Regions from separate parts of the Homo sapiens genome. Here region 2 is linked to region 1. The links come from fine-mapping of genetic effects on gene expression. A gene starts in region 1. The other region holds a variant in brackets. All regions are shown on one strand. Distances are from middle to middle. Region 1 holds the start of SQLE (squalene epoxidase). Region 2 overlaps WASHC5 (WASH complex subunit 5).

Region 1 (5,380 bases):
ATGAGTTTTCTTGTCTGTAAAATGGGGCTAAAAAAATAGTATCTTAGCTGGGTGTGGTGGCTCACGCCTGTAATCCTGGCACTTGGGGAGGCCGAGGCGGGCGGATTGCCTCAGCTCAGGAGTTGGAGACCAGCCTGGCCAACACAGTGAAACCCCATCTCTACTAAAATACAAAAATTAGCCGGGCGTAGCAGCCTGCGCCTGTAGTCCCAGCTACTCGGGAGGCTGAGGCAGGAGAATCGCTTGATCCCCGGGAGGCGGAGGTTGCAGTGAGCCGAGATCAGGCCACGGCATTCCAGCCTGGGTGAAAGAGCGAGACTCCATCTCCAAAAAAAAAAAAAAAAAAAAAAAGTAGTATCTCCCTAAAAGTGTTGTCAGGAAGCCAAAACGAGCTAATATATGAAAAGTATTTAGAATGCTACCCGTACTATATGTGTGAGCTCTTGTACGAAAGTATTTCTCATGTACCTACTTGATAGCATTATGGCTTTCTGCCAGTAAGCAGCTGATTTTGTCTCACATTTCATTGCTTTCCCTTCAGGTCTCAATGACAGATTTGTTTTTGAATAAATGAACCATGGCAAGATTCAAAAATACTTAAGCAATGCTTATATAACATTTAATTCAGTTCAGAAGATATAGGCATTCAGAGTGTGCTCTGCGGTAGGTATTACAAGTGCTCTTTTTGCCCCAAATTCAGAAGTGGATCTTGAACTGCCTAAAGGATTCAGACCTGACATTGTAAGAATGACTTTGTGAAGATAAAAACATATGAAGAAAGTCGCTTTCCAGAGATTAAAAAATTATCTACTTAATAAGAAAAATTCCTTTTATGATAATCTTGAGTACAGAGTTAGCAGGTAACAGCCATCCTGGTGATAACTGTATTCCCATCTGTAAGAGTCAGTTGGCCGGGCTTGGTGGTTCATGCCTGTAATCCTAGCACTTTGGAAGGCTCAGGCGGGAGGATCACTTGAGGTCAGGAGTTTGAGACCAGCCTCGCCAACATGGTGAAACACTGTCTCTACTAAAAATACAAAAATTAGCCGGCATGGTGGCACGTGCCTCTAGTCCCAGCTACCCGGGAGGCTGAGGCTTGAGAATCGCTTGAAGCTAGGAGGCAGAGGTTGCAGTGAGCTGAGATTGCGCCACTGCACTCCAGCCTGGGCCACAGAGCGAGACTCTGTCACAAAAATTTAAAAATAATAAAAGAGTCAGCTGCTCCTCTATTATTTTAACAAAACAGAACTCACAGATACCAATAAGCAGTTTATTGAAGAATTCTCTTCAGGAAATGATTTCCCATACATTGAACTGATTCTCTTTTCTGCAGTCCTTTTAAATTTGATGTCAGTTCAGACAGCCAAACTTACTGGTAACAGTGAGGAATATTGTAGAAGAAAGAATAAAAGTATTGGAAAGCAAGGCAGTTATTGATAATTATGCATACTGGGGAACCACAAGATTTGGAGACCAGGACTTTGACTTTTGGTTTCATCATTACGATTTAATCACAGCTGTGATTTAGTCAAGCCATTTAACCTCTTTAATTTTCATTTTCCTCATTTTAAAAATCAAAGTTGTTTTGAGGGTCAAGTGAACGCCTGTGCGGGTGTTTTACCAAATAATTATTTTATTAGCAGATAAAACATAATATTGGGGGTGAAAAGTTATAAGAGGTGCCATGTTTTTTTAAACCCTGCCAAGTATCTGATACAGAATTGCAAAGGATGTTCGAGTTCATGAAGAAGTTGCCTTCTCCCCACAGAGGCAGAGTGACTTGTAACATCTGTAAAAGGTCACAGTCTGGTTAGCGGTAGCCAGAATCTGGGTCTCCTAACTCTAGTTGCCTAGTCTTGCTTTTATGCGCCAGTGTCGTTCATCATTCATTAAATACATGTTATGGAGGATAAATTAAGGGCAGAGCATTGTGCTAGGTGCTGTGGGTGATCTTATCAGACACAGATCTTTAGGGAATCTAGAGATTAAAAAGTATGAATAAAGTTATGTGACTTGGTGAAGGTCAATGGCGATTTGGTGGAAGAGGTGACAATGCAGCCACGCTCCAAAAGGCAGAAGGGATTTGCACCTATTATCATAGGGGTTAAAGAAGGAAGTCCAGAGTTAAGAAACAGGATGAGCAAAGACACTGAGGTCTTAAGCCTCAATAAATTTTAGGTAAGTTTCATCGTAGTAGAATAAGGGCTGTCTCACTCCGAGACTTTTGCACACTTTTGCTCCCTCGGACTGCTTGTCCTGGACACCGTGTAACCTCCCCCTGGGCGCCTCACCAGACTTCTCCAGGCCAAGGGAAGGACCACCTCTTGGGTTTCCATGGCTCCCTCTCTAACCACCCCCTTCTCAGGACACCTATGACACGACTATTTGACTTCTTTGCCTCCGAGCCCCCACCCCCAACGTTTCTGGTCTTGAGAGAACGGGCTGGGCGCATCCGTGTATCTCTAGCCTGAGCACCTGGAGCGTCCTCTCCTTTTCTTCTTAAGGCAAAAGCCTACTCATTCTTCCAGCTTCAGCTGGAATGTCAGGCTCTCCACGCACTCATGGCCCTCCCTTCCGCCCTCTCCACATACACAGGGCAGGGAAGCTGTGTCTGATTCCTCTTTCGGACTCCGGGGACTGACATATCATAAGCGCTCAATAAATGCTAGCGGAATGAATGGAAACGTTCCGACCCGAGGCAGCGGATCACTCCAGGCTTCTCCTCAAAGCGAGCACACCTCAGTCCAGGGAGGGCGCAGGAGCTGGGGCTGCTGCGGTGAACCAACCCCAACCCCGACCCCGACGCCGATCCCGGCCCCAGAGCGCCTCCTAGGCGACCCCTGGCCCCACCCACGCCGGAGCCGGCCCGCGCCCATCCCCACGCCCCAACCCGCACCACGCAACATCGCCCTAGCGCCTTTCGGGGCGTCGCCGCGCAGGTTGCGCCGCCTCCGATTGGCCAAACGCGGCATAGCGCCATCTCGGCCTACCGCGCGGTGCGCGCCCTCATTGGCCGGCGGCGGCAGGAGCAGGGGTAGGGGGCGGGGCAGCACGCGGGGCGCGCGGTATGGGCGGACTCGCGCCTGAGCCCCGCCCCCGGTCCCTCGTCTGGGCCGAGCCCGCCCAGCTGGCTGAGACGCGTGGAGCCTGGCGGCGAGTGGGGGCGTGCGACGGTTACTCTGGTTACTGGGGCCGCGCCGCGCTGGCGAGAGCCGCCGCCCGCGAGGGATGCTGGTGAGGAAGCCGTCGGGAGCCGCCGCCGCCATCTGAGGGAGGTACCCTGGAAACCACCTTTTATCGGTGGGGAAGTGCAGTCGCGGTGGGCGGCTCTGGGGGCCAGCGAAACGGGAGGCCTCTAAATCTTTAGGTTGGGGCTGCATTGCCCTGGAGCCGCACTCTTGAGTCCGAGGCCATCTTTTGTTGGAGAAGGCGTCGGCGTTGGCGTTTTCCCGAGGTTGGGCTGTACAGTGTCTCCGTCCGCGGAAAAAGAAGCCTCTGAACCCGCGCCGGCCCGCAGCCCCCGTGCCTTCCGGCCGCTGCTCGCCGTCGCCAGAGGCTAGGCCACGTTTCCCCCAGTGCCGAGGTGTTTCTGTGACCCTCCCTCCACTCCCATTCCCTTCTGAAAGGGCACCTGCTCTTGGTGAGAAAAGAAATTATAGCACGAAGAGCCAGTATCAGAAGAGTATCCATCACCCGCAGCAACCGCTCAGGGAACACCATCAAAAAAGAAAAAAAGGGAATATCTGGATTTCCTGGGCGAGGAGGAGCGAGTCTGCTCGGGAGCTGTTCCAGCAGGCGATTTTTAAATACTGCTTTCTACGCCCTATACAACTTGGCTTCACATACTTTTACACTAACTTTATATGATTTTTAAAAACTGGTCTGATCGGACTTCTCGTCCTGGGACACTGTTTACTGGAGTCTGGCCGGCTCTCCGTGCTCCTCTTGGTACCTCATTTTGGGGAGAACCTTAAACCCACTCGAGCAGATAATCTCCGCCTTGACCGGTGCCACCAAAGAAGCCTTGGAACCATGTGGACTTTTCTGGGCATTGCCACTTTCACCTATTTTTATAAGAAGTTCGGGGACTTCATCACTTTGGCCAACAGGGAGGTCCTGTTGTGCGTGCTGGTGTTCCTCTCGCTGGGCCTGGTGCTCTCCTACCGCTGTCGCCACCGAAACGGGGGTCTCCTCGGGCGCCAGCAGAGCGGCTCCCAGTTCGCCCTCTTCTCGGATATTCTCTCAGGCCTGCCTTTCATTGGCTTCTTCTGGGCCAAATCCCCCCCTGAATCAGAAAATAAGGAGCAGCTCGAGGCCAGGAGGGTAGGTTGATTTCAAAGCGGGCAGATGAATGTCTTATTTAGGAGTAGGATTGGGTTCACTCAAATATAAGTTTTATTTGAATTGCAAAAGGCGGCAGGTTAGATGCTTGTATACATTCTCATGTATTTTTTATTTTAAACTCTGCTGTGCCTTGGTTACATCTTTGACCTTCTTAAGAATGAGTGAAGACATTTGTTTCATTTAGCATTGGTTGAGCCTCAGATGGAGGTTGGATATTTGATTATGAAAGATGGAACGAAATGTTAGAATTTCATTTTGAAGGAGAAGAACAACCACTTTCCATGATGAAAAAGTTTTTAAAAAGTTCTTGGGTAAGGATTGGATTTGTGCCTGAGGAAGAAAGAAACGTGCTGCGGGTAAGTCCACTGCTTGTAAGAAGTGACAGCTGACTGGGGAAAGTGACAGAACAGTTTGAAAAGCAGGCAGAAGGAGAATGCTCAACATTTTGAGGCATTGGGCTCAAAGTTCTCCTCCCCCGAATATTGGAGCATTGAGTAAATGCTTGTAGTAATGTCCTAACATAAAGGCCAGGTCTTCAAATAAGGGTGTAGTTGGGATTCCTGCAAAGGGAGCAGAGGCGGCCACTGGGAGAAGATGAGGGGGAAGAGTTTAGGCCAGATCATTTAGGGCATGTTGGCAATGAGTGTTCGGGCTTTTTCCCAAGAGTTCTCCCAAGAACACTGGAGGATTTTAAGTATGGGAGTAACTTTATTCGGTGTTTACTTTTTAAAAAATTTTTGTTTTTTGAGACAAAGTCTCGCTCTGTCGCCCGGGCTGGAATGCAGTGGCGTGATCTCGGCTCACTGCAACCTCCGCCTCCCTGGTTCAAGCGATTCTCGTGCCTCACTCAGCTTCCCAAGGAGCTGGGATTACAGGTGCACGCCACCACTCCTGGCTAATTTTTTTTTTTTGTATTTTTGTGGAGACAGGGTTTCACCATGTTGGCCAGGCTGGTCTCGAACTCCTGACCTTAAGTGATCCGCCTGCCTCAGCCTCCCAAAGTGCTGAGATTACAGACGTGAGCCACGGCGCCTGG
Region 2 (5,380 bases), 75 kb after region 1:
TGTTTGCATAGGGAATGTTTAAGTACCCAGTTGTTGGACAAACACTCTGTATTCCTCAATGTGCTTTAACATTTAGCTTCTTGGTATAAACCAGGTTTGCTTCTGGGGTTCCCAGGGCCTGACCATCTCTCTCAGATCTGACCCTTAAGGATTCATACCCAGAGAACTGCAGAGCCATCAGAACTTTGGGGTCAAACTTCAGTAGCCAGCCAGCCTTTCTCATCCCTTATTTCCTCAGAGAATATTTCTTTACAAGGTTCTGTACAAGCATCCTAAGACTGGGAAATGCCTCCAGCAACTCAACAGGAGGCAATGAGACTAGGCCTGCTTTTCTGAACACCATGACTGAAATTCCACAAAAGTTAACTAAGCAGTTGCTTTTCCCATGTGTGACTCACAATCAGATAGGTCAATCATTTGTTTCTGATAAATTACGACCCTGTGCAATCAGGTCAGACAATTGCCAGGCACAAACGCAAAAGACAAATGTGGCTGAAGATAAAACCACAGACCTCTGGCAAGCCAAGGTTGTCCCTGGCATGGGTGCGAATTCAGGAGACTGCCGGCTTTCCGAACATAGACAGGGCCGTCAGGCAGAGTCACACAGAAGATGAAGATGAGGCTGAGTCACTAGAAAACCCCAGTTGGTTTTATGACAGGATAAAGTGAGGGCTTGAGTTGTTTATACGCTTGTGAATGCAAGACTTTTGGTAAAGAAGATTAAAAGCTGAGTCAATGTAGTAAAATCCTCAAATTAGAACTGGAGTTTATGTAAAAAATAAACTCAACTAATTAAAAACAGATTCAGGGATTAAAAACTTCAGCCATCGTGTTCATACTGTGGGTAAATTGTAAATGGATATAGGCCAACAAACAAGATGATGAAACAAACTGGAAAGCAGCTCTCAGGATAAAGGTTTAAGAAGCTGGAGAGAAGGCTGAGGGGAAACTCCACACATTTTCAAAGATACGAAGGATGAGGAAGTCCAACTGCTGTTTTCACTGTGGACCACCCATAGGAAGTGGAAGCAGACGGTAGCTAGAAGGACTGTGAAGTCATCTTGGCTGGAAGAGCTGTGAGACAGGGGCTACCATGTTACAAAGGAAGGCTACAGAGAAGTCTTGTGTGCACAGTTTTTTAAAGAGACACAGTCTTATCTGGAAGAACAAAGAAGTGCTGCACACAGTGCCTGTCTCAGAGTTGGTCCTCAAGGAAAGTTTGTTGAGTGAAAAACAAAAAGCAGAGGGCTTCACAGGCCTGCTGAATGACACACCTCTTAGGGGTAGGGGTATACAGTCCTGGATGAGGGAATGCATTGGTTAATTAGTGTTGATCCAGCATTTACGAAGAATAAGAAACTGTGCCAGCCCTGAACAAGCTCAGAGATGTTAATTCAACTTACTTATTTTTCTACCATTAAACCAGAGGTTGAAGCATTTCTCACAATCTGAACTTGATGGTCAAACTGTGTGAACAGAAGGTCTCGGAGGAGACCATGACTCATAAAAAGCTAAGATCCAATCTACCTTAAATAAGCACTCTGGTCCAGCCAGGTCATCAACTCAGTGGGCCCATATGTTTTTCTGTACTTTCAAAATCGTATCACTTATTCCATCATTTCTGTAGTCTAGAATTTCTTCTGCTTTTTGCTTCAAAACCTCATCACACGCCTGGTTGGCTCCTGATTCCTGTATGGGGTTTCCTGACCTCCTCTGCTCCCCTATCCCAAGCAATGTTTCCCTCTCTACTCTGAACTCAAATCACACCAACTGTCTGTTTGACACACCTGGTGTCTGTTTACTGCCTTGGACCTTGAATTAGTTTCCCGCTGCTGCTTTAACAATTACCACAAACTCAGTGGCTTAAAACAACACAAATTTATTCTCTCACCATCCCAGAAGTGACAAATCTGAGATGGGGCTCACTGGGCTAAAATCAAGGTGATGGCTGCGCTGGGCTCCTTCTGGACATTCTAGGGGAAAAGTCTGTTTTCTTGTTTTCAGCAGCTAAAGGCTGCCTGTATTCCTTGGCTTGTGGCCCCCTCCATCTTTAAAGCCAGCAATGGCCAGTCAGGTTTTTGTCACAATGCTATCTCTCTGGTTCTGACACTTCTACCTCCCTCTTCCTGATTTAAGGACCCCTATATTTACAGGCTGGGCATGGTGGCTCAGACCTATAATCCTAGCACTTTGGGAGGCCGAGGTGGGCAGACTGCTTGGGCTCAGGAGTTTGAGACCACCCTGGCCAACACAGTGAAACACTGTCTCTACAAAAAAATACAAAAAACTTAGCCAGGCATGATGGCACACACCTGTAGTCCCAGCTGCTTGCGGGGATTGCGGAAGTTGTATCGCTTGAGCCCAGGAGGTCTGAGTGAGCTGAGATTGTGCCACTGCACTCAAACCTGGGGAACTTGAGATCCTGTCTTAAAAAAAAAAAAAAAGTGGGGGGGGGGGGCGGGCTCTTATTTTATTATTCTTTTTTGAGACGTGGTCTTGCTCTGTCACTTAGGCTGCAGTGCAGTAGCATGATCTTGGCTCACTGCAGCTGCAACCTCCCAGGCTCAAGTGATCTTCCCACCTCAGCCTCCCCAGTAGCTGGGACTACAGGTGTGTGCCACCATGCCCAGCTAATTTTTTTACTTTTTGTAGAGATGGGATCTCACTGTGTTACCCAGGCTGGTTCTGAACTCCTGGGCTCAAGCTCTCCTCCTGCCTTGGCCTCCCAAAGTGATGGGATTACAAGTATGAGCCACCACACACAGCAAGGACCCTTATGATTACACTGAGTCCACTGGGATAATCCAGAAACATCTCCTTAAAGGTCAGCTAATAGGCAACCTCAATCCCCCTTTTTCATGTAATATATCTACC[G/A]GTTCAGGGACTAGGGCATGAACATCTCTGGGTGTGGGCTGGAAGGCACTATTCTGCCTACCACAGATCTGCAGTTCTATTTTTTCATATGTCTACATTTGATCTCCCCATTCTGATCAGTGACAAGCTCCTTGAACATGAGAGATAAACATCCTCTTATTCCCTAGCACCTAACAGTACCTGACAGGGGAGAGCTTTTCAGGTATGCTAGTGGCCTATCCAAGTTGACAAAAAATGACTAACTTTAAAAAGCAACTTGATTCTCATCCAAGGCCTCTCTCCCTGCTAAACCACTCTGCATCGTGAAGTAGGTCCTGATTCTGAGAGTCTTTATGTGGAGTAATATAAACGGCCACCCCTTTTGTGCATTACCTGAGTCTGCTGTATGAAGCATCAGCCATCGGATGGCAACATTGCAGTCTCTCAGGCAGTTCAGAAGCTTTGGGATATTGTCCAGAACCATCTCCTCCCTTAAATAACCTTCTTTTAGAAATTGCTGCACTTGAGCATGCACTCTTTCACTGACAGTAGCATATCTGCTTGCCTTGACAAATAAGAAACTTGAATTACATTTAAAAAGTCATTTATCTTGAAAATAAATCACATTCAAATGAATTCACTGACAAATAGTAACATTTCTATATAGGATGAATGACATATGGATTACAGTTATAGGGCTCGAAGATAACATTTCTATAAGATGAATGACATATGGACTACAGTTATAGGGCTCAAACTTTAACATTTTTATATAATTTCTGTACAAGATGAATGACATATGGACTACAGTTATAGGGCTCAAACATTAACATTTTTATGTAATTTCTATATAAGATGAATGACATATGGACTATAGTTCTAGGGCTCAAAGATAACATTTCTATATAAGATGAATAACATATGGACTATACTTATTGGGCTCAAAGACAACTGGCTTATTGAACATATTTGAAAAAAGCACTGGACTTAGAATTCTGAGACTACATCCTAGTTCTGGCTGTGATTAAACTTTGGTGTGACTTGGGGCTTAACCCCTGTGTATTGGTTTCTTCAAATTTCAAACGGAGACTTGGACCAGGTGGTTCCTCAGAACTCTTCTATTATTAACTTAGATGAAAAAGAAAATAAAGACAGAAGTTCAATTGCTTGTTCTTGCTAATACTGTTGACAAAGAAGGCAGAACAGAGCAGAAACACTTAAAATATAAGACTTCTTCTACAGGCTTATGAAAGCTTAGCAAAAAATACACCTTAGTATATCAAAAATGAATTTCCAAACCAGCTTTTTGGAAAATTTGGTCATTCTGCTTTACTTAAAGGAAGTCAAATGTTAAACATCATTAACCTCATCAAGTTAGTTGAAATCTGTGGTATCAAGAAACCTCTTAAAAATGTCACAAATGAGAAAATGCAATTTTAGAAAGGGATTTTAGCAATGAAAAATTAATGATCTGATGTTGCTAAGTATAAAAGTGCCACTTTCTCTAATATATTTCTAGGAGATGTGCCAACATTGAAATTATTTTGTGCATTATTTATGGAATTCAATTTACTTGAATAAAACATGATGAAGTTTTTTGAGTCAATATTGTTTTATCCACACAGGAAACTCAGTAACTGAGCCAGGATGAGGAACATAACCATTTAGAAATATCAAGTATGCTCCCCAAGATTTTATCTTTATTCCTCTACTTACTTGGATGTTCCCTTCTGCCTTGTGTAAGAACAAAAGAGATAGAATATAACCGTTTAACCTTTAAGATGAATGTCTTGAGTCTTGTTGCTTATTTAGCACAACACAAATGATAAATTTAAATTACAGTGACAGGACATATTATCCATATTCAGTTATCATCTTCATCATTCATCCTACTTATAAAAACATATTAATTCCAGCTATTGGTACAACCAACTCTGGCCATGAGAATATAGTCTTTAAGCAAAAGTAAACTAAGTCATTTGGGGCATATGCCATGCTTCTTTGTCTTAGGGTACTGACTCTTCCTTGGGATCCTAATCTTCAATTTACATATACTATATAACAAAACCTACAATTACCTATCTTATTCTAACCTATAAAATTCACCTTTTATTAATCATTGCATTAAATTATCTAAGTGATTATCTTCCAAATTCCTTGGGAAATCTACTTAGCTTATTTGCTACTTCATAAACTAGGCCTGCAGTTATCAGAGAATGTCCCCAGATTAGAACCTACCTGTTCTCTGACATTTGAAAGGTCCAGGGTATTATTTAAAGCAGTTTTTGCAGCTTTGTAAGGTTCCCAAGCATCTACTAGATTAACTGTGATCCCCATGTAAATACTAATTACCTGAAAGAGGAGACATTCAGAATTTGTTAAATTCCTACTCACTTCAAGGCAAAGGGTTGAATACTAAAGTTATAGAAGGCAATACCCACTCCATGTTTAAATTCCATTCCAATGAAAAACCAAGATTTTCCAAATATATAGGTAAGTGTTCCTGATTGTTAAGTAAGTGTTCCTG

The links. PIP is the estimated chance that this variant, and not a neighbour inherited with it, causes the effect. A credible set is the group of variants that fine-mapping cannot tell apart.
Region 2: its variant is the best candidate, but not a certain one, in a credible set for the expression of SQLE in blood mononuclear cells (TOPMed, PIP 0.74).

What each region holds. Positions count from the first base shown.
Region 1 is chr8:124,995,372-125,000,751 of GRCh38, forward strand. It overlaps SQLE (squalene epoxidase), which reads left to right and starts at 3,134. Exons shown (of 11, transcript NM_003129.4): 1 at 3,134-4,323. The coding sequence starts at 4,033. SQLE-DT (SQLE divergent transcript) reads right to left here and starts at 2,827. Exons shown (of 2, transcript NR_134457.1): 1 at 2,592-2,827; 2 at 1,617-1,789. RefSeq lists enhancers at 2,455-2,514, 3,445-3,494 and a silencer at 2,735-3,234.
Region 2 is chr8:125,069,907-125,075,286 of GRCh38, forward strand. WASHC5 (WASH complex subunit 5) reads right to left here. Exons shown (of 29, transcript NM_014846.4): 8 at 5,092-5,205; 9 at 3,247-3,418. Among named protein-coding and RNA genes, the nearest start is that of WASHC5, 19 kb to the right of the region's middle. The variant G/A (reference allele first, on the strand shown) is at 2,875.